2 separate regions of the Homo sapiens genome follow, and region 1 is linked to region 2. Evidence: fine-mapped expression QTL. A gene starts in region 2. The other region holds a variant in brackets. All regions are shown on one strand. Distances are between the middles of the regions.

Region 1 (11,896 bases), 31 kb before region 2:
AGAAGGAAAACCCTGGAGAAGGGGGACCAGGGAAGCAGGAGCCCGGGAATTCTCTTTGGGCCATGCCCATGGACTAGGCCCTGTGCTGTGTGGAAGGCAGTGGCCTGGGCATGGGAGGCCAGGTTCCGGCTGTAGCCCTGCCTCTTGCTGCCTGACCCTGGGCCAGTCCTTCTCCCTTGCCCCAGCTCAGCTGTCCCTGCCAGAAAATGAGTGGGGCAGACTAGATTTCTGAGTCTTTCCAGATCTGATATTCAAGAGGTCAGTGATCCTGTTCTCAAAACCAAAGTCTGAATAACAAGGGGCATTCCCTAAAGTTGGGTTCCTCAATCACAGGGCAGGCAGGAAACCTCAACATTCTCTGTCCTCAAACTCAAGACAATGGATATTTGATGGGTATTCTAAAAGCTAAAAACTAAGGAACACCAACTACATGCAACTCTTTCTCTTTTTTATTTTTTTTTTAATAGAGACAGTGTCTTACTCTGTTGTCCAGGCTGGAGTGCAGTGGCGTGATCACAGTTCACCACAGCCTCGAACTCCTGGGCGGCTCAAGTAATCTCCCACCTCAGCCTTCTGAGTAGCTAGGACTATGGCGGGTGCCTTCATACCTAGTGAATTTATTTTATTTTTTTTTAGAGACAGGGTCTTGCTATGTTGCCTAGGCTGGTCATGAACTCCTGGGCTTAAGCAATCCTCTAGCTTCAGCTTCCCAAGTAGCTGGGACTACAGGCACGTGCTACTGTGCCTGGCTAATTTTTTAATTTTTTGTAGAGATGAGATCTTGCTATGTTTCCCCGGCTTGTCTCTAACTCCTGGCCTCAAGTAATCCTCCTGCCACAGCCTCCCCAAATGCTGGCATTACAGGTGTGAGCCACCCATGCCTGGCCTTATGCAACCCTTTAAAGCACAAAGCACAAAACACTGGGCCTCTGAGGATCATATGCAAGTGTATTCTTGGTTAATGTGAATCACATACCCAGAGTCTCCATGTAGCTGAGCTCACTGATAAAGAAAATTCATGGCCAGGTGCGGTGGCTCACACCTGTAATCCCAGCACTTTGGGAGGCCGAGGCAGGCAGATCACGCGGTCAGGAGATCAAGACCATCCTGGCTAACATGGTGAAACCCCGTCTCTACTAAAAATACAAAAAAATTAGCCGGGCATGGTGGCGGGCACCTGTAGTCCCAGCTACTCAGGAGGCTGAGGCAGGAGAATGGCGTGAACCTGGGAGGCGGAGCTTGCAGTGAGCCGAGACCGCGCCACTGCACTCCAGGCTGGGTGACAGAGCAAGACTCCGTCTCAAAAAATAAAAATAAAAAAAAATAAAATTCCTGAATATGTAAATTCAGGGGCACACTCAGTCTCCTAGTGAGTCCATGATTACAATCAACTCTCAGGCTGTCTGGAGCCACCTGGCTGATCTAGTGTTCTTTTTTTTCCTTTGAGATGGTGTTTCACTCCTTCACCCAGGTTGGAGTGCAGTGGCACAATCTCAGCTCACTGCAACCTCCACCTCGTGGGCTCAAGCGATCCTCCCACCTCGGCCTCCAGAGTAGACGGGAACACAGGCGTGCGCCACCACAAATCTTTCTGACCCCTGTGCTGCTCTACCGGGGCTTGCACAGTGGATTCCGGCAGTATGGGTGGAGAGAAGAGGAAGCCGCCTGGCTGGGGGCAGGCAGGGTAGAAAAGCAATCAGATGGAAGCAGTTTTCCCTGCTGTGTGGAGGGCTGAGAGCTTTCTAATCATCTGGCTGCATTTGCATTGGAAAGGTTATGTTTTTCTTTTAACCCAAAAGAATCTCTGATTTCAGACTAAATAAGGGAAAAGATTCGGGAACTGGTTATGTGGGTTTTCAGTCTTTGCTGAAAGAAAGGGAAGGGAATCAGGTTTCACGTCCTTTTCCTTTATCCTTCTAACAGCCCTAGTCAAGAGGACTAGTTGGGCTATTTGACACAGAGGTGAGCTAACATGCCTAAAGTCACACAGCCAGAAAGAGGCAGAGCCAAGAGTCAAAGAGGTCAGTCTGACTTCAAAGCTTGGGTGGTGGCCACTGTTCAACACTGCCCACTGAGAGCTTTTCTCTCAAAAGCTTCCTGATTTCTTTTTTTTTCTTTCTCCATCTGCCCTCACCGAGTAGTTCTTTGATAGAGTAGCATGAGAGTTCTCAAGGTTATAAGTCTATATGTACAGTCTCGTGTGGCTTAATTATGAGGATACACTCTGAGAAATGCGTCATTAGGTGATTTCACTGTTGTGCAAACATTGTAGACTGGACGCAGACAAACCTAGGTGATTTAGCCTACTACGCACCCAGCTAGATGGTGTAGCCTATTGCTCCGAGGCTGCAGACCTGTGCACCTGTTACGGTACTGAATACCATAGGTGGCTGTCACATAATGGCATTTGTGTATCTAAACACATGTAAACATAGAAAAGGTAGCATGTTGTGCTATGATGTTATGACGGCTATGATGTCACTATGTGACAGGGATTTTTCTGCTTCATTGTAATCTTATGGGACCATCACATATGCAGCCTGTTATATGGCATCTGACTGTACATATGTGGTTGTGAGTGGCAGGGTTTGGGGCAGGACGAACTCTGGTTGTATGGCTCCCTTTACGGACAGTGGAGGCTATGAGTGCACTCCACAGCCACAGGCCTCCCAGTGGGACAGTTCCTGTCACAACCCTTTAGAGAGGAGGCTGCGGGTCACGGCAGGCAACACACTTCACATAAAGTTCCTACCTCCTGTGACATCACTGGTCCCTGTGGGGTGGGGAAGCCTAGGGAAAGATAGGGACAGAGAAGGGGAAGGAAGGGGAGGAAAGGAGGAGCAGGGATGGTGGCAGCAGCTAGAAGCGGCAGCTGAGCAGACAGACCAGACCGCAGACATGAGCTCCAGCCCAGCTCCAGCTCCTCCACTTCTTCAGCACATGACCCTGGGCAGGCTCCTTAACCTTTCTCAGCCTCAGCATTCCACATCTGTAAAGGGGGAGCACACCAGCGGCTGCCTCACCTCACAGGGCTGGCGCGAGGACTAAATGTGGCGATGCACCCACCGAGGGCAGTGCCTGGCACACAGGAAACACCCTATAAATTCTACAGATGGGAGCAGTGACTATTGGCAGCTGCAGGTCATCCGTACAGTGTGCAGGCGCAGGACTGTGGGGGGAGGGTCGTGCTGGCCCCTTAGGGCTCTCGGGTGCACTGGGATGGCACTAAGGGAGGTTGACCAGGCCAGGCCCCACACTTAGCTAGTCAGGCTTTCATCTCTCATTTGATAATCTAGAGGCACCTTCACTTTTCAGTAGCCCAGGATACCAGGGCTACTGGTTAATGGGTCAATCAAGGCCCAGGCAAACTGCACTGGGCCTTGTGGTAAAGAAAGTGAAGAAGCGTAGAGCAATATTCCCATCAACATGTGTTTCTAATGTGAATATTCTAGGATGAAGGGGTATCCCCACTCCACCTAGCAAACCCTTAGGGGTGGAGAGCGCACCTTCCCTGAGGGCTGGGACAGAGGACCGGCAGGACTGGCAGGCCCTGAGGGGAGGCCCCTACCTTCAGGTGCTCTATCTTCCCCTGCTGGCTCAGGAAGTCCCTGTTGGCAGCGTCGGGGCGCAAAGGAGACTGGTCAGGGGGGTGCGTGAAGTCCTGGGTGACCTTCTCAGAGAGCTTGCAGATGACCTGCTGCTTGGCGTGGTTCTTGTCCATAAGCAGCTGCACGTGCTGCTGTAGCTCCTGCACCTGCTGCTCCCGCAGGCTCGCTGTGTGCGCCAGGCTCTCCCGCTCCTGCTCCAGGGCCTCCACCCGCCGGCCCAGCTCCGCGATCTGCCGCACTTTGTGCCGCACCAGCTCCAGCCGGTCCTTGTCCTCAGCCGCCGCCAGGTATGCGCTGGACGCCCGCTTCTCCTGCTGGGCGGCCTCCAGTGCCTTGTGCAGGATCTTCACTAGCTCCTGGGCAGGGAGAGGGAAGAATCTTGTGAGCTCAGGGAGGGCCTGCTGGGCGCCACAGTGGGGTATATGTTATCAGTAGTTCTCCTAACAACCGTGAGAGGTGCCCAGCAGCATCCCTGCGGCATCTCATCCTGACACTCACTTTCTCCTTCTCTGTTCAAGTGACTGTTAGCTGGGCACATGGTTCCCCAGCTTAAAACTGCATCTCCCAGCCAAGCCATGGTGAGGTGTAGCCAAGTAACTATTCTGCCTAAATGGGAAATGAAAAGTGAGATGGGCAGCTTCTGGGTCCTACCTTTAAAACCACTAGATACACGCTCCTCTGGTCCAGTTCTCTTTGCTTCTGGCTGGGAAGTGGCAGGAACTAGAGTGGCCGCCTCAGACCCACAGCAGAAGGTACATGTTGAGAAAGGGCTGCCCCCCAGCTCAGAGTTGCTCACCTACCTCTGGGTTCTTTAATGTGAATGAGAAACCTCTCACTCGTTTTGGGCCACAGTGCTTTGAAACTTTTTTTTTTTGAGATAGCGTCTCCCTCTGTTACCCAGCCTGGAGTGCAGTGGCACAGACATGGCTCACTGTAGCCTCAATCTCCTGGGCTCAGCTGATCCTCCCACCTTAGCCTCTCAAGTAGCTGGGACCACAGGAACATGCCAACACACCAGGCTAATATTTGTATTTTTTTGTAGAGAAGGGGTTTTGCCATGTTGCCGGGCTGGTCTCAAACTCCTGGACTCAAATGATCTGCCCACCTTGGCCTTCCAAAGTGCTGGGATTACAGGTATGAGTCACCACACCCAGTGGAGATGTTTTTGTCACAGCAGCTGAACCCATACCCTGACATATACACATCCATTTCAGGGATGAACAAACTGAGGCCCAGCAGAGAGTAGAATGGAATTCAATCTCAATTGGCTAGATTCCAAAGCCTGTGCTCAGTAACTAAGAAAACCAGGGGTGGCAGCTATGTGGCATTACTCTTCCCTCTCATCCCTGTGGCAGACATCACTAATTAATCTCCCATACTTCTTCCTGCACAGCCTACCCTAGTTGAGGCCTCAGAATCATTCTCAATATAGCAGCCAGTCACTACCAATCAAGTTGAGTCAGGGTTAAAGAGGAAATACACTGGCAATCCCCATGTAAAGCCACACACAGAGGACCTCATTCAAGCCATTTGTGCCTAGTTACCTTCAGCCCACCAGCCGATGCCTGCAAAGCTGGTGGAAGGAACTCTAGAAAGTTCAGAAACAATAGAGCTTGATTTATTCCTCAGCAGGGGCAACTAATTCACACAGGAACTCAAGGTCTGCTCAGCTCCCTGTGCCTTTAAGCCTGTAATTTCCCCAGGGAGGGCCACGCCTGGACTCAGGCCTATCTGTCCCAAAGCAGGGATGTGAATTTGTTCTGGGCCAGGATCAGGACATCAGCAGCCAGGTCCACGTGGAACTAATACCAGGTAGGTATGACTTTCAGGCAACACTGCCCTGCTCTGTGCTTCTCATTTGGAAAAACATGGTTTCCTAGAGACATGTCAACTATACCACACCAAAGTATTAAAATGAGTGGATTGGCTGGATAGCCTTATTTGCTAAGAACAATTCTATATTGGAGGAAAACTGCCAAAAACCATGACTTTTTTGGAGAAGCTAATGACAAGACCACATTAGCCTGCATCTTCTGAAACCTTAGGACTAGTGACCATCCTTTCTCTGGTTCTCTCTTTTCCTTCCACATGCCCATCCATCCATCCAACCTTTACCAAGCACCACTCGGTGCCAGGCCAGGCCCTGAGCCAGGTGCC[G/A]TGGCCCAGAGAGGGAGTGGTGAGAGTTCCCACCTCCAAGGACTGCAAAGGCTGGTGGGAATGAACATGACCCACCACAGTGGAATGATCTACTGCAAGTCAGGGGAACAAGGGTGTTTGTGGGAAAGGCAATGACTTCTGTCTGGGGTGGAGGTTGTGGGGAATACCAGTCCAGAGCATTTAAAAGAAACTGTGAAGAATGAGAAGGGCCAGAGATGGTCGAGCAGCAGGTGGGAGATGAGGGTGGGGATGGCCCTCCAGATGTGGCCAAGCTACAGCCCCAGTAAAGACCTGGAGGAAGGAAAGAGCTACCATGGAGCTGTGGGAGCCCTGGGGTGTGGCAGGAAGTTGGGGTGAGGACAGCACAGTGATTGCAAACCAAAAGGGAATGTTTGGAACGTCCAGAATGAAGAAGTCAGCTTCTCAGGGCTCAGTGGAGAGAGATTAACATTCCTGTGGTTCCAGGAAAACTGGGGGCCTAGGCCATTTTCTGCTTCAGCTGAGATTTGGAGGTTACCTTGGATGACTGCCCAGGGAAATAACCAACAGACATCATTGTTCAGACTTGCCCTAGGAGCAGGACCAGTGGGTGTCTTTCCCTCAATTTGGGGAGTTAGTTGACTCTGAAGCTTATTTCATTACATCTAGCTGTCTCCTTCCCGCATTTGGCTCCCAGAATCTAAGACTGAGACACCAGCCCAGGAGGCTCTCCTCCCACCCCCAGAATTCTTGTACCAGAATAAAATAGGCTTAAAAGAACGGAACCAGGGCAGAGGGAGGGAGCCTCAGTAGGACTTGTAAGATGAGGAGTGAGAATGTCATGAATTCAAGAAACCTAAAGTCTGGATTATAAGCAATGTCTTAGGACCAATTCTTAAAAATAGGTTGGGCCGGGCGTGGTGGCTCACGCCTGTAATCCCAGCACTTTGGGAGGCCAAGGCGGTCGGATCACGAGGTCAGGAGATCGAGACCATCCTGGCTAACATGGTGAAACCCCGTCTCTACTAAAAATACAAAAAAATTAGCCAGGCGTGGTGGCGGGTGCCTGTAGTCCCAGCTACTCAGGAGGCTGAGGCAGAATGGTGTGAACCCGGGAGGCGGAGCTGGCAGTGAGCTGAGATCGCACCACTGCACTCTAGCCTGGGCGACAGAGCGAGACTCCATCTCAAAAAAAAAAAAAAGAAAAGAAAAGAAAAGAAAAATAGAGGGGTTGATGAAATTAAGCTTTTTGAAGTGTTTTTTTTTCTTTTCTTTTTTTTTTTTTTTTTTTTGAGACAGGGTCTCACTCTGTTGCCCAGGCTGGAGTGCAGTGGCGCAATCACGGCCCACCGCAGCCTCAACCTCCTGGGCTCAAGAGATTCTCTTGCCTCAGTCTCCCTTGTAGCTGGGACTACAGGCATGCACCACATTGCCCAGCTAATTATTTTATTTTCTGTAGAGACAGGGTCTCCCTATGTTGTTCGGGGTGGTCTTGAACTCTTGGGCTCAAGAGATCCTCCCACCTTGGCCTCCCAAAGTGTTGGGGTTATAGGTGTGAGCCACCATGCCCGGCCCAAGTGGTACTTTTAATATTTCTCAATCGAGTTGTTTGGTTCATCTCAGATTTTGATACGTGGTCATAAGTTGTCACTTTATTTAAATTTTTAAAAGCCAATAAATCATCTTTAAAAAATAATCCTTTATCTTTTTAGAGCATTGCTACTTTCATCAGTGGTGGGCCCTACAGGGGTCAGATGAAGGGGCATGGGCTTTGGAGTTGCACAGGCCTCGGTTCCCATTCTGGATCCGTGGGGGGTGTATCTAACGAGGTGACTCTAAGGAGGGTAGCTCAGGTGGCCTCTTCATTGAACCTCAGCTTTCTCATGAATGGGGCTAAAGCTTCCTCTTCTGCTCAGAACTGCCTCTAGCATGAAAGAGAAAGTGCCAAGTGTCCCTCCCCAAGCTGACATGGCCAAGGTACCTCCCAGCCCTCTTTCATGTCCTCTGAAGTTTTTGGCTGGAGTTCTAGGAAAGTAAGAGGCTATACGTTGCCCCACTGAGTTTCCTAAAAAATTACGTTCCTTTACCCAGTAATCCTGATTGAACTAAGGTGGCCCCAGAGGGCCGCAGGCAGGGTCCCAGAGGGGTTCATCATTCCCAGCCGCCAACAGATGGCCAACATCACCACAGACAACAGCCTTCCATCTGCCAGAGCAGACGGCCTTCAGGCTGGGTGGAGTTCTGTCAACTCCAAGGGTCAGTCCCCGGCCAATCAGCCATCTGGTGCTATCTCCTAGAGCCCAAACCTCTTGTGGGGCCAGTGCTGCAGGTATGGGGACAGATAATGGCTTAATGGGTATTGAAGTCAACCTGTGGTTTAATATGACACCAGGGGGTACACAGGGAGTGCATTCATTTTTTCTCAAGAGCAGTTTTGGTGCTTGTGTCTCATAGTGGGCCTCACCATGAGACTATGGAAGAGAGGAGGCAGCCCAGCCTCTAGACTTGGAGAAGGAGGTTAGGGCCCCAATCCTGGCTTTTCCAGCTGCCTGCGCATGGGCAAGTCACCCAACTCCTCTGAGCTCCTCAAATGCTGGCTTAGCCCCTGGGAGACCCTGAGCATGCAGACACTCTGAGAACCTCAGTTTCCCTTTCAGAGTAAGGGGATGAAAACTATTGTAAGGACAGAGATAACACATGGGAAGGCTCAGCACAGTCCTGGGGCCGCGCTTCATACCAGCAGTTCCCATGCTCACATCTTCTCTTCCCCACTAGATGGTGAGGTGCCCAAGGGCAGGGATTTGTCTGCAATGTGCTCTCAAGAGCATCTCGCAGTGTTTGAGATAGAAATTCCTAAAGAGTCACGAAAGCCACTGGCAATGGCCAGATCAGCTAGGATAAGACCCCAAATTCCCATGTCCTCCTGAAGTTTGAGGTAGACAGGAGGTGCCTTCCCACTAAAGAAACACAGGAAGGTACCTCGCAGGGGTAGCTCCTGGGATTCCAGGTGCCCATCTTCCCAGCTGATGAATGGGACTCTAATGAGGGTCTCAGATGGACAGCGGCTCTCCTAGCGGCATTCTGAGTGCCTGGGGGCACCACTGGGCACCCAGAAGTTGTGCTGGCTTTTTCTGTCTCACCTCTTTGGTTTCAGTATCTGGGCTACAGGTGAAACCCTAGAGTTACGGGGCTGCCATTCCTCCCTTCCTAATGTGGAATGAAGACCTAAGCTCCCTGATCACTGCTATGGCCCCACGGCACATTTCCTGAAGGCACTGATGGGCTCTCACTTCCCGCCTCGTCTCTGAGCCCCTCAGCAGGGCACCTCACTGCTTGTAGGGCAGGAAGAGATTGACATGGAGGGTAAGGAGGGCTGCAGTAATCGCCAGAACAACCAGAGCCTGCATCTGTTGGGCAGCTGCTGGGTGCCAGGTACTGGGCTTTATGAATCTGGGCACAGGTCTCTCCAGTAAACACGGCTGCAACTCCATTTACAGAAGAGGAAACTGAGGCTTAGATAGGTTAAGAAACTTGCTTAGGGCCAGAATTTGAGCCTGTGCTGTCTTATTTAAAGGCTGGTTCTTTGAATCACCCTGAAGACTGAAGTTCATTTGTGGAATGGGTTGGAGAGTAAACAAATCCACTCCTATTGCACAATAATTGGATAAACTAAATAAATCACAACTCATTCTCCTTTTGACCCTCTGTCCCAGGACACAAAGTCGAGGTTTGGTGGAAGGTTACCTGGTAGAAAAAAAATCCAGATTCTTCAATGCATCAACAACTTCCTCCTGACAATTTCCCTCTGAATATATGGGAGTTGTCAATAGCCTGGTCAACCCTTATTAATCTCCAAGAATCTTGCCTTTATTTATTGAAGAATGATGAGTCCTCCAGAGATGCAGAGCAATCAGGGGCAAACTTTCATGAAATCTAGGTTTCCTGGGGCCTTTCTACTTCATCTGACAATTTGTAATGTCTTAGAAAGAAAGGCTGTGTCAAGAGAGGCTGCCCGTATATTCAGGATTTCTTTTTCTTTCCAGGTTTGGGTTTCGGATTTAAGCTCTACTAGTCCAGGGATCAAGTAGCTGCTATGGCTCTGTTTCATGCCCTCTCAGCTCTCAGGAGCGTCCAGCAGCCTCAGAACTGGAGCACCATGATGACAGGAGGAAAAGACAGCTGGGCTGCTAAGCAGCAGCAGAGGGGACCTCACGTGTTATAACTACACATTTGGGTGTTGCTTTGTTTAATGTCTGTCTCTGCCATGAAATGCAAGCTGTAAGGGCAGAGCCTGTGTCTTTTGCTCATTGTTCTTTCCCAGCACCTGGAACACTGCATGCACATAACAGGCCCTTAATAAAAATTTGGTGAATAAACACATGAGTTAAGAACGTATGAATAAATGAGCCCCCTCCTTTGAGAACTCTAATGTCTAATCACCAGTTGCTTCACTAAATGTAACTCCTGGCCAGGCACGGTGGCTCACGCCTGTAATCCCAGCACTTTGGGAGGCTGAGGTGGGCAGATCACTTGAGGTCAGGAGTTCGAAACCAGCCTTGCCAACATGGTGAAACCTAGTCTCTAATAAAAATACTAAAAACAAAAACCAAAAAACAAAAAAAAATTAGCTGGGCATGGTGGCAGGTGCTTGTAATCCCAGCTACTTGGGAGGCTGAGGCAGGAGAATCGCTTGAACCCGGGAGGCAGAGGTTGCAGTGAGCCAAGACTGCACCACTGCACTCCAGCCTGGGTGACAGAATGAGACTCTGTCTCAAAAAAAAAAAAAAAAAAGTAACTTCTGACATGCCAGGAATGAAGCCTCTGCCGGTTCCCCTGAGATCTGCTGACAGTGGTCACTGCTTAGGGGCAGAAAAGGCAGACGAGGGGCCAAACTAGGTATAGGGAGAGCATTTTTTCTAGATTTCTTCCCACCAAAATAGGGCAGAAAAGAAAAGAAGAAATGTACAAGTTATAAGAAATATTCAGAAGGTAATAGGGCATAAGCCCCACCTCCCCAGCCTAAGTCCTCTGGAGTCAGGGCTGGAAAACAAAGCAGAAAGGGCCTCCGGGCAGCCAAAGTTCAAACACAAAAGCTTAGGCCTTCCTCTAGAGGAAAAGGAGTCTGGGCCCTCACTGGAGCCCGCCACTGCCACCACAGGTCCTACCAGGCCCCACCGTTGGGATTTATGTAACAACTGCCTAACTTAGTCGCTTTTATCACTCTAAAGAGGGGCTCCCGCCCGGAGCTGCAGCCCTCTCACATCTTTGCCCTGGGACCCTCACTACTTCATAAGGTAGCCCCTGGCTTTTAATACCATTTACTCTCTGGGATGTAGGATTTTGGAGTAGTTTTAATGTCTGTGTGTATGAGATCTGTTTTCTACAATTATTATATAGCTCTTGTAACTCTCGTAATTAACTTCTTACCATATTAAGCCCAAATATTCCTTTCACTGTTTCTGTGTTGGTCCTGGCTTAGCCCTGGGCCACACACATGCTGCTTGTTTGCTTTCTCCTGTGACAGTCTTGTGACGGTCATTCAGATATCTGTGCCCAGATATCGGCTGCCAGGTCAAAGTTCCCCCCAGTTCTATCGACAGCCCCTCCCATGACCCTGCATCCAGATCACCTGCCTCTAAATAATGTCATTTTCTGGGTAGGGGGTGAGACCATGCATGGCCCTCCAGGAGGGGTCCAAGAGACAGTTATTAGAGTAGATCTCCAGAGATACCTGCCCTTGGTGCCCTTTTGTGACTTACTTTGAGTGACATCAGGTTCTTGAGTAATCAACAGCATATTTCAACATTCTGCAGTTTGGCCTTTAAAGACCAGAGAGTAGCTGGTGCCCAGCACGGCTAATGCGTCCCATCTAGCTTATCCGAAAGGCTCCAGGAACTGGAGGGGTCCACTGGAACCTGGGGCCTCCCTGGGACCAGACCTCACCTTCTGAGACTTTAACTCCTTGGTGAGCATCAGAACCTGTTGCTCCAAGGCTGCCACTTTCTCCTGGGCAGTTCGGTTCCGTGTGATTCCTTCAGAAAAGAATGGGAAGGTGTTGTTCTGGCGCTTGGCTTTCTGAGCGAAACTGATGGTCAGAGAAGGCTTGGGTGCAGGCTTTGGAGAATCCTCTGGCTCTCTCCCTGCTCAAGAGG
Region 2 (11,896 bases):
TAGACAAAAAAAGGGCCTGACCCAGGAGGTCACTGCCTCCCTAGAGGGCCCTGGACGAGTGCCTGGCTGCCCCTTAGCTTTGGGAGGGCAGGTTATGAGTCTGCAGCCTAGGGTTTGAATTTCAGCACTGATGTTTTCTTACTACATGACCTAGGACAGGTCTCTTGACCTCTTTGAGCCTTAGTTTCCTGGTCTATAAAATGGAAATAGCACTAACTACTCTATAAAATTATTGTGAGGATTAAATAAGATGACGCATGTAAAGTGTTGGGGCAGCAGGCATATTTCATGACAGTACACATTTATACAGGTCCTTTGTAAACTGTAGCTTACTGTGGCAACTTGCTATTCTTATTATTATAAGTCTCGTGGGTTCCCTTTGATCTTTCTTGGCTCTGCGGAGACCGTTGTTTAGGTAAAGCATAAAATAAAGTTGTAAATCCTTAAAAGCAGGAGAGAACATGCCTTGCAGATTGCTCAAGAGCAGTGACGAGACACTTTTTACCAGAAGTCTCTGACTCAAAGTCAGACATGGGTCAGGAGGTTTTCAACGACATGGGAGCGGGCCGCTGCTTCCTCAGGAAGGGTGGAGGCGGGCGAGGTGGGGCAGCCTGCTCCACGTGGCTAATCCAGGCCTTGCTGACTTGCCCAAGACACCAGAAACATCTTTCTAGGTGGGCTGGGAAGGTTTTGCCAGGCCCTGGGTCTGGGAGGAGAGTGCAGGCTTGCTGCAAGGCGAGGAAAGGTTTCAAGAGGAGAAGCTCACGTCCCTGCTTCCTGAGTCTCAGGCAGCATCCTCCTCAGGAGACTAGAACCCAGGTCATCACAGCAACTCCACCCCTTTCTCCAATGCCCACAGCAGGGGCTGGCCTGGAAGAGGCCCGCCGTGTGTGCTGAAGCAAAGCCGCACAATTAAAGAACCTGCAACAGGTTCCCCACAGCAGAAGAGGTCTGAGGATCCCAGAGCCGTTCTTCCACAATCTGCTTCTTCAAATTTCAGTTAAGACACAGGAATTCTATTATTGCAGAGGTTTCTGCTGGCCTCTAGTCTGATGCTGATCTTTGCAGCAGCATCAACCCAGGCTGCAGTTTTCTGCAAAACCAGGGTTGTCTGGCTCCCTGGCAGATGGGGAGTGGGGGCTGGAGCAGAAGCAAAGAAACCCTTCAAAAGAAACTCCAAAGAAATTACTAATGATTATTAAGAATAAAAGGAACAGTTATTATACTAGTAACAGCACCTATATATGTTTGTGTATATACTATTATGATAGTAATAGCATGGGTGTGTTCTATGCACAGACATATAGACATAGAATAACAATATTATTAGGACAACTCCCATGTATTGAGCACTTACTATGTGCCTGAGGTTATGCTAAGGGGTTTACATTCCTTTCCTCATTTAATTATAAAGTTTAGTGTATTGACTTACACATTCATTCCACAAATATCCAATGTGCCAGGCAGGACACCAGGGAGGTGACACAGGCAACCAAAAAAAAGTCCCCACCCTTAAGGGCTAGCGGGTGGAGATGGACAAGGACGGGGGTAATTATTAATAGAACACAATGGAACAGGTCTCCCTTGAAGTGTTTGAAAAAAGTGTTGAGGGCCCAGAGAGAATCCAGCTGACAAAGTCTGAGAAGGCTTCCAGGAGGAGGCTGGCAAGAAGAGAAGGCAATGCTGGAGCTTGGCCATAGAGAATAAGCAAGAATTTGCCAGGCAAAGGAGAGAGAGCAGAGACTCTGCCGAAGCATCAAGCCCAAGGTGGGGACTGGGGGAGCAGGCAGAGGTGAGATCAGGAGGGATGAGCCCTGAGTGCAGGAGTGAGGTGGTGGGTGGCATTGGATGGCAGTGACCGGGTTCAGGGTCAGGTTTAAGAAAGCTCACTCAGGCTGCAGAGAAGGGGATGGGTTCTGGCATGGCCTCCACATGGGGATACTGGAGAGGAGGCCACTGTGACTTTGAGAGATGAGGTGTGACCTGGGCAGTGGCAGCGAGAAAGGCCTGGGTCTGATGTATGGGTCAGAGGGCAAAAATGGCCAGCACAGTGATTGACTGGACTCACTGGCTGGAATTGAGGAAGGGTGGAGGGCAACTACTAGTGGGTACAAGAGGGGAAATCTACTGAGAGGAGGGAAGGGAAATGGGGAGAAGGGTTGGGGCAGATGTACTCAGCTTTGGACATGCAAAGCACCCAGGTACAGAGGTCCAGGGGGTACTTGGTAACAAGTCCTGCCCTTGCCTATTTGGCCTCCCTGTCAACTGAACATGAAGCACTTTAGACACAGTGTGGCTTTGTACTGGGACCTGATTTTCCACATTCTTGCAGGGGCAGCTGTGAGGTGGTCCATACCGATCCTAAAACCTGCCAATCATGTTCCTGGCTGCAGCATGGGGGTGGGAGGGTGTGGTCTCCTGGACTCTTCCACGTTGGGATGATCCAGGATTTGGGATCAAGAAACTTCATTTGTGAGTCATCTGGGGGAAAAGGATCCTATCTTATGGGAACACCAGCGATAAAAATAATTGATCTGGCCAGGCATGGTGGCTCATGCCTGTAATCCCAGCACTTTGGGAGGCTGAGGCGGGTAGATCACGAGGTCAGGAGTTCAAGATCAGCCTGGCCAAGATGGTGAAACCCCATCTCTACTAAAAATACAAAAATTAGCCGGGCGTGGTGGCACGTGCCTGTAATCCCAGCTGAGGCTGCCTCGGGAGGCTGAGGCAGAGAATTGCTTAAACCCGGGAGGCGGAAGTTGCAGTGAGCCGAGATTGCACCATTGCACTCCAGCCTGGGCAACAGAGTGAGACTCCATCTCAAAAAAAAAAAAAGTCACTGATCTACCCAACTCACGACACAAATCTACAACACTGCATTTTCTTATTAACCCTCCTCACAGCAATTCTGTGAAAGTTTGATTTCTTGAGGCCTTCCATAATAGTCATCACAATAGTAGCTCACAAGTATTGGGTTCTGACCATGTGCAGGCATTGTTCTAACCATTTTAGGTATATGAATTCATTTAATCCTCAAAACATCCCTAAGAAGTAGGGATAATTTATAAACCTCATCTTATGGGGAAGGAAACAAGCTCAGAAAGGTTAAACAACTTGCCTAAAGTTATATAGGACTAGGATTTGAACCCAGGCAGCCTGGCCTCAGCCCAAATTCTTGCCCTAACTAATCCTGAGTCATATCCCTGGCTCTCTGCTTCCTTAGCAGAGGGCTCCTCCCGCTCATTCCCAGCAGGAGGGTAAAGGCTTAATCACCAGAGCCCTGGGTGTGCAGGCAGGAGGGTAGCCCATTGGGTACCTAGCTCGAGGTGCAGGACGGGCCCATTCCCAGCCAGGGCGGCATCAGGGGTGGCAGGAGGTGCCGGCGGGCTGTTGTGGAATTCCCAGCGCTTCATCTGCAGCTGCTGCAGCCAGTACAGCATCGCTTGCTTGGTGGCGGCCTGAGAAGCACAAGGATTAGTTGGCAAGGCCCTGTGCCTGAAGGGTGGCACTGGGTGCAGGAAGAGGGGAAGGTTGTGGGAGGCTTAGGAATGCTTTCTTTCCCAGGAAAAAAAAAAGGGGGTCACTGTAGGTATGTATGCTTCCTGGCCACAGAAGATCATCAGGCTCTGGTCTCCCACTCAGCGGTTCCTTAGCTGCTCTGGGCCTCAGTTTCCTCATCTGTACTCTGGTGACAATAAGTCTCATTGCATAGGACAATGATGAGGATGAAATGAGACAAGGGTATCACACAGTATCTGACACACAGTAGGTGCTCAAAATGTGCTCACTGGATAGAGGAATTTGGAGGCGCTGTGAGAGGGGGAGGTGCACTGAATTCTGATATGCGTGGGGTCCTGGTACCATCACTATCTCTGTGTGACATCTCCAAGTCTTTGCTGCCTTTTGTGGAATAGGAGTAATCCTTGCCTTGGGGATGCACTGGAATCATGGATATGAATGGAGACTGGAAAGCCACATGCACATGTGACAACATGGTGGCACCTTCCAGGTGCTCTGGCCCTCCAAACAAGTTCATGGTAAATGCTGGTCATTAGTCTCCCAGCACTGGCTGGCGGTTGGTCCAAACATCCACTTTCACATCCAATAACTCCTGGATTCTTCAGGAGGGAGGCAAGGCAGGAGTGAGCACCCCTTTCTACAGATGGAGAAACTAAACCTCTGAAGTTGCCCAGGCATGTGGTGGTAGAACTAGTCCCATAACCCTGGTCTAGAAGTTGGATTTTATGGCCAGGAGATTAGTGGCTTCATAAAGAAGGCCTGAGATCAGCTGAGGTGGACTGCAGAAGATGAACAGCTCACCGGGCGTGGATGGGGATTCTCAGAGAGCTGCCTGCAATCAAGGCCACATGAGAACAACAGCGGGCTACATGGCAACAGAGGCAAACTCCCTATCTCAGGGGTTCACTGGTGTGCACTATGCAGGGGGGAGTCTGTGAAAGTGACCCTCAGGCTGTCACACAGGTATCAATAAGATAAATGATGCCCACCAGTGTTCTCTTTCCATACACTCTCTCAGAGAGACTGCAGCACCTCCCAGGTCTTCCCCATGACCTTAATGCTGATGAGCTCCAGCCGAACCCAAATACCCCATTTTATTAACTCATTTGACAAGGGTATACTGAGCATTGACATATGTGTCAGAGATAGTGCTAGGCACTGAATACAGGGGTGAGCCAACACACATGGTCCCTGTCCCCTTGGAACTTGAGAGTCTCCTGCAGGGGACATGTACCTGGATGTTCCATGGGCTCCTCATCCTGAGTTCCCTCCTGTCAGTGACTGACCCAACCAGGCAGTCAGCCAGTTACTCCAGCCACTCCTGACATCTCCCTCATTCTATTTCCCTACTATCCCGAGACACCTCCATTGTCCCCTTCCCCACAGCCACAGCTCTAGTTCAGCTGTCACTCTCTTCTGATCACCTTCTGATGGGCTCCCTGAGTACCAGCCTTGCCCTTCCCCTAGTTTCTTCTCTATCCAATAGTCAGACTGAGCTTTTGCTACTTGGCCTAATTTGCCAATTCCCCACCCTCGGGCCTCTGCTCTTCAACTCCATCCTTTGGGCCCCTCTGTTTTTCTGGCTCATGTGATTTGCCTGGACACTCAGGGCTGTATCATGGTTTCCTAATTTGCTCACGGTGCTCTCTTGGCCTGGAATACCTTTCTCCCTCTTGTCTGCTTGCCACCTATTTCTTCTTTCAAGCCTTGGGTGTGTCCCTCCTCCAGATGCCTTTCTGGCTAGCCCCTTCCACTTGGTGGAACTGACTCCTCCTGTCACCACACCTTCTTGCACAGACTTATCACATGTCTCTACAGAACATTTCAGGGTGCATGCAGGTTCTCCCTCAGTCTCTCCCACCAGACTTTAAGCTGTCAGAGAACCAGGGGTGGGGGTGCATTAGCTCCACACCCCGCCAAGCGCAGAGCCAGGAACAATGGAATACTATTATAAAGACCATGTGTTGAAGACCCTGCATACAGCAGTCAACCTGTGGAAGAGACACATAGACCCGGGAACCACATGACCTCGAAAATGCCTTCCCTGGCCAGGGATTCCTGAGTTTCATTATTTTAACCAAGTCCCCCAGCCTGGTCACCCGCCAAGTCCAGTCAGTAAAGGAGAACTGAACACGTGGGCATCCACAGATACCCACTTAGCTGGAGTTGGGGTTGGAGGGGTGGACAGATGGGGATGGGGTGGGGAAGGCTATCTCCTGGCACATTCTTCTCTGATGCCCATAGAACACTTAGCCCAGATCTGTCTTTCCAATTAAGTTATGGGACACCTCCTCTTGACATTAGCACTCTGACCTTGGTTCCATCACCTTGTGTGTGCATGTGTGCTTATGCAACAAAAAATTATTAAGTACTCCACTAGGTACCAGGCTGTATTCTAGGTGATGCAATTAATTCAACAATTTGTACATGCCTGTGATGTGTCAAATGCTTACAAACCACCTAGGTTCTGAGAGGTTAAGTAACTTGTCCAGGGTCACACAGCTAGTAAGTAGCAAATGTACAATTTGAATCCAAGCCCGTCTGATTTCAAAGAATGTGGCCTTTCTACTGCTTTAGGCTTTCTCAGTTACACATGATGATAAAACCTACCCCTTGCTGCTGATAGGAAAACAGGTTTAAGCATGCCTAGATGAACAATCTAGGCTGATCAGTGAAACCTAAGTGTTTATTTTCCTAATCCCTGCCAGTCTCTTCTCAGCATTCACTGACCTTGGCCAAAATATCAAGAAACGGGAATCAGAATCCTGGCCTTGAGAGAGGATTGCAAAGACCATATTTTGACTTACTTAGGTCCCAGGTAAGAAAGTTAAGGTAACTGCACTGTCAGGCACACCCAAAAGTAAAAGTTTTGATTCAGCACTGAGAGGTAGAAAGACTATGGGATTCCAAGCTACCCTACTCTCTAGACGCATGGACCTCGAGCCAGTCCTTTCATCTCCCTCTGACTCAGTTTCTTGATCCGTAAAATGGGTCTGTCTTCCCTGCCTTGTGGGAACCCAATGAGGAAATGGGTGGGAATGCACTTTGCAAAGCACAAAGTTCTTGGAACTGTCGTCACCGACACTCCAAATTTACTGTGTCCACCTCACACTCGCGCCCAGCCTTGCCCTGCGAAAAGGGGACCTCACGCCGCTGGAAAGGAGAAAGTCGTTGCAGGAATTTACCTTCAGGGTAATAACCCGGCTGGGAGTCTTGATTTCGAAGATCCCCTCCTCAGCGTCCGCCTTACAGTCAAACACTGCACTGGAGAGGTCGATGCTGTCCAAGGGATTGGCATCCTGAGCGGTCCGCGAGTAATACAGCTGACATTTCCTTTCGTCGTAGAAGAACCAGCGGGATTTCCAGCCCCGGATGGGCCCTTTGCCGCCGAACTTACTTAAATACCCACAGAGTTTCTTGGGGACCGCCTCCAGGGACCGGGCGCAGTCCCCCGATTCTTCCTCCGGAGGCGGCACCTGTGGATCCCTGGCAGACTCTTCGGACCCAGGGGCAGAGGAGCTGGACTCCGGGGCGTTCTCCCCAGCGCCCTCCATCGCTGCCAGCCGGAGACTGCGGAGGGACGAGGGGTCCGCGGGACCACCAGGGACAAATCTCGGAGACTCGGCGGGCAGCTTCCCAAAGGGAGACACCTGGGCGGGGGCGGGGCCGACGGCGAACCCGCCCCCAGGAAGCCACAGAGTCGGGACCGGGTGCGGTGCGCGCGCCTCAAAGATCGCAAACCCAGGTTACGGCGGCTGGCCACGCCCCTCCACCGCCAGGCCACGCCCCCGCAGCGCTCAGTCGGCTCCCTGCAAAGCCCAGCTGCTTCCGGCTTTTTCTCCGCGCCAGTCAGCCATCTTTACTGAGGGCAGCCGTGCTCCCTGGCTTCAGGTTAAAGGCGTGGTGGCACTGAGTTAGGTTAACCGCGGGCAGAGAAGCCTGTCCCTAGCTACACTTCCCTGGTAGTTCGCATAGTCACCTAGAAAGATAGTGCTTTCTTGCACCCGATGGGCTGCTTGTTCCCTCCCTGTGCCGCGCGGGGCACCCTCGGACGGCGCATCTCGCGGCCATTGGCTGAAAGGAAGACCGCTGGGAGGCCCATCTTCCGGCGTCGCCCGGGCAGCGCGGCTCCGGAGCTGTCTGCCACTCTTCTCCTGGTGTTCCTTCAGCCCCGTCAGTGACGCCGCGGACGGCCTTCTTATCCCTCGCCTGACAGCAGTGGCCTCCCCAGCTCTCTGTCCTGGCTCCTATTCGCCTCCTGACAGCGCTGGTTGTGTTGCTTGGGGCGCCCAGGCGCGGCCGCTGCGCTGCGGAAACCCATGCCACTCCTGGGTCATAGTTGGGTGCAGTACATTTATTTTTATTTTGTTATTGCTATTATTATTTTTAGAGACGGTCTGGCTCTGTCACCCAGGCTGGAGTGCAGTGGCGCGATCAGAGCTCACTGCAGTCTCCGCCTCCCGGTCTCAAGCCATCCTCCCGCCTCAGTCTCCCGAGTAGCTGAGACCGCAACTGCGCACCACCACACCCGGCTAATTTTTAAATTGTTTTTTGCAGAGAGGGGGGTCTTGAACTCCTGGCCTCAAGCGATTCTCCTGCCTCGGCCTCCTAAAGTGCTGGAATTACAGGCGAGAGCCACCGCGCCAGGCTGTTTTGTAAATAAGTAAAAGAATTTAGGGTTTGACTAACTTGCTCAACTTCTGCCTCATTTTACCTGTTTCCCCTTAAACTTCTCCCCTTCCCTCCTAAGGCGCATTTCTCCATTAGGGTTGCGGAGCCCAATTGCGTCCAGCTTTCTTTAGGAGCTTCTTTCTGCCTTTCTCTTGCCCTTTGTTCAGCCTTTCCTCTTACTTCATCGTCTCCCCCTCAGCCGTCGTTAACGAGACCCTCATGCACACTCAGTGATATTGACAAGAAGCAGGGTGGGGGTAAAGGCGAGGGCTCTAGAGTCTATTTGCATAATTTTCAGATTCCCACTCTGCAATACTGAGTGATTTGCTCAACCTAAAAATGGAGATAACACTTCTTCCTACCCACCCCCGACCCGCCGCCAGACAACTTTACGGTGAAGCTAATGAAATTTATGTTCACTTGCATGGGTCGCTGGGATTTGTAGTCTAACAGGTGGGGAGTTGCAACCAGGGAGCATTTCTCCTAAATGCCAGAGAGCTCTTCATTTGTTATAATTTACAATTTATTTTCTCATTCTAAATAACCATCGTCATACCTAATTTTGTGTTCATAATTTTGTAATTTTTTAAAAATCAGAAGGCCCTTAATGCTGTTTAATTCCAGTCCCCACAAAACCTGGATCTACACCTGTCTACCCTTAGAGTTGTTTTGATAATTAAATAAAATAATATGTGTGAAGCTCTTAGTACAGAATGTGGGACAAAATATTTCTTTTCTTTTCGAGACAGAGTTTCGCTCTTGTTGCGCAGGCTGGAGTGCAATGGCGCGATCTCGGCTCACCGTGACCTCCGCCTCCCGGATTCAAGCGATTCTCCTGCCACCGCACCCAGCCAGTTTCTTTTCTTTTCTTTTTTTTTAATTTTTTTTTTTTTTTTTTTTTTTGATACAGAGTCTCGCTCTGTCGCCCAAGCTGGAGTGCAGTGGCATGCTCTCCAATTCCCATTCTCCTGCCTCAGCCTCCCGAGTAGCTGGGATTACATACACGCGTCACCATACCCAGCTAATTTTTGTATTTTTAGTTGAGACGGGGTTTCACCATGTTGGCTAGGATGGTCTGGATCTCCTGACCTTGTGATCCACCGGCCTTGGCCTCCCAAAGTGCTGGGATTACAGGCATGAGCCACAGTGCCTGGCCCCATTCCTGATTTTTAAAACCTCTTAATAAAACAAACAGCATACCTTATTTGTTCTAGGTTTTGTAGCTAGGCAATGATAAATATTTGAAAGAATAATTATAAATATATTACGTATACCAGAAAAACTCAAGTGGTGGCCTGTTTTAAAAAACTGTGCATATGTGTATAGATGTCTCCAGCAGCAAACAAATGGAAAATATAATGGACAACATCCCTTACATAAATGACTTACATAATGAATACCTTATTGCTTTATAGTAGGATATAAGACAAACCAAATATGTCCCTGAGTGGGAAGAGTTAATATTGTAAAGATGTCACATTCCTCAAATTAATCCATACAGTTAATACATTTTCAATCAAACTCTCGATAGGCTTTTTTTTTTTTTTTTTTTTTGAGACAGAGTCTTGCTCTGTCACCCAGGCTGGAGTGCACTGGAGCGGTATCGGCTCACTGCAACCTCTGCCTCCTGGGTTTAAGCTATTCTCCTGCCTCAGCCTCCCTAGTAGCTGGGACCACAGGCAGGGCACCATGCTCAGCTAATTTTTGTATTTTCAGTAGCGATGGGGTTTCACCATGTTGGCCAGGCTGGTCTTGAATTCCTGACCTCAAGTGATCCATCCACTTCAGCCTCCCAAAGTGCTAGGATCACAGGTGTGAGCCACCATGCCTGGCCTCGATAGGCTTTAAAAAAACTTTTTATTTTTGAATAGTTTTAGAAAAAGTTACAGAGACAATGGGAGAATTTCTGTAGACCCTACACCCAGTTTCCCCTAATGTTAACATTTTGCTTAATCCTGGTATGTTTGGCAAAAATAAACATCTAACATTGGTACAAAACTATTGACAAGGCCGGGTGCGGTTGCTCACGCCTGTAATCCCAGCACTTTGGGAGGCCGAGGTGGGTGGATCACGAGGTCAGGAAATCGAGACCATCCTGGCTAACATGGTGAAACCCCGTCTCTACTAAATATACAAAAAATTAGCCGGGCGTAGTGGTGGGCGCCTATATTCCCAGCTACTCGGGAGGCTGAGGCAGGAGAATGGCGTGAACCCAGGGACGGAGCTTGCAGTAAGCCAAGATCGTGCCACTGCACTCCAGCCTGGGCAACAGAGCGAGACTCCCTCTCAAAAAAAAAAAAAAAAACTATTGACAAAACTACAGTCTTTATTTGGATTTTGTCTGTTTTGTACCAATAGCCTTTTTCTATTCCAAGATCCCATTCAAGATGCCATAGTTAGTCATCATTTTCCCTTAGTCTCCTCTGCATTGTGACGTATTTCTGTTTTTCCTTGTTTTTCATGGTCCTGACAGTTTGAAGAATACTAGTCAGGTGTTTTGTAGAATACAATCACTTTGGGTTTGTCTCATGATTTCACTGAGGTTATGTTTTGGGGAAGACTACCACAGAGGTGAGGTGCCCGTCTCATCACAACATCAGAGTACATGATATCTGCATGGTTCCTATACTGTTAAGTTGTGTAGCTTAAATTTTCTCATTTTATTTTATTTATTTTTTTGAGACAGAGTCTTGCTTTCTTGCCCAGGCTGGAGTACAGTGACACAATCTCGGCTCACTGTAGCCTCCGCCTCCCGGGTTCAAGCGGTTCTCCTGCCTCAGCTTCCCAAGTAGCTGGGGTTACAGGTGCTCGCCACCACACCCGGCTAATTTTTTGTATTTTTAGTAGAGACAGCGTTTCACCATGTTGGCCAGGTTGGTCTCGAACTCCTGACCTCAGGTGATCCACCCACCTCGGCCTCCCGAAGTGTTGGGATTACAGGCATCAGCCACCATGCCCGGCCTAAATTTTCTCATTTTAAAAGGATGTTAAGGCCGGGAGTGGTGGTTTTAATAACAAGAAAAGTTAATCACTTGGATAAGGTAGGGTCTGCCAGATTTCTCTGCTATAAAGCTGCTCCTTTTCATTTCAACACACTGTTCTTTGGAATTGGGTTGCTAAATTCAGTCCCCCCTTATAAGTAGCTCCACCTCCTGGAGGGGTTGATAGGAATTTTTGCAGCCTATTAAAATGATTCTTACATACTCTTTTTTTCCTTCCTGTCTTTCCCCCTTCCCTTTCTTTTCCATTTTTTTTTTTTTTTTTTTTTGAGACAGGGTCTTGCTCTGTTGCCCAGGTAGGCTGAAGTGCAGTGGTGCAATCATCACAGCTCACTGCAACCTTGACCTTCTGAACTCAAGCAGTCCTCCTACCTCAGCCTCCCGAGTAGCCAGGACTACAGGCACATGCCACCTCATCTGGCTAATTAAAAAAAAAAATTTTTTTTTTTTTGGTAGAGATGGCAGTCTCACTATGTTGCCCGGGCTGGTCTCAAACTCCTGGGCTTACATGATCCTCCTGCTTCGACCTCCCAAAGTGTTGGGATTACAGGCCTGAGCCACTGTGCCCAGCTTTAAGTTTTACTTTTTCAGAAGTAAACAAGTGAGAGTTGCCAACATTTTGGAGAGAAAGGACAACTAGAAAGGATTTAACCTACCAGACATTTACATTTAGTAATTTGGCCAACAAGTATTGAGTAAGCACTTTC

The links. PIP is the estimated chance that this variant, and not a neighbour inherited with it, causes the effect.
Region 1: its variant is fine-mapped to the expression of TBC1D2 in tibial nerve (GTEx, PIP 0.97).

Annotation. Positions count from the first base shown.
Region 1 is chr9:98,217,265-98,229,160 of GRCh38, forward strand. It overlaps TBC1D2 (TBC1 domain family member 2), which reads right to left. Exons shown (of 13, transcript NM_001267571.2): 5 at 11,688-11,884; 6 at 3,569-3,964. It overlaps MIR6854 (microRNA 6854), which reads right to left; the gene lies at 11,885-11,896. Among named protein-coding and RNA genes, the nearest start is that of MIR6854, 6.0 kb to the right of the region's middle. RefSeq lists a silencer at 1,503-1,797 and an enhancer at 5,406-6,605. The variant G/A (reference allele first, on the strand shown) is at 5,766.
Region 2 is chr9:98,248,469-98,260,364 of GRCh38, forward strand. TBC1D2 (TBC1 domain family member 2) reads right to left here and starts at 7,181. Exons shown (of 13, transcript NM_001267571.2): 1 at 6,705-7,181; 2 at 3,317-3,458. The coding sequence starts at 7,073. RefSeq lists enhancers at 1-278, 279-1,195, 7,416-7,905 and a silencer at 7,196-7,245.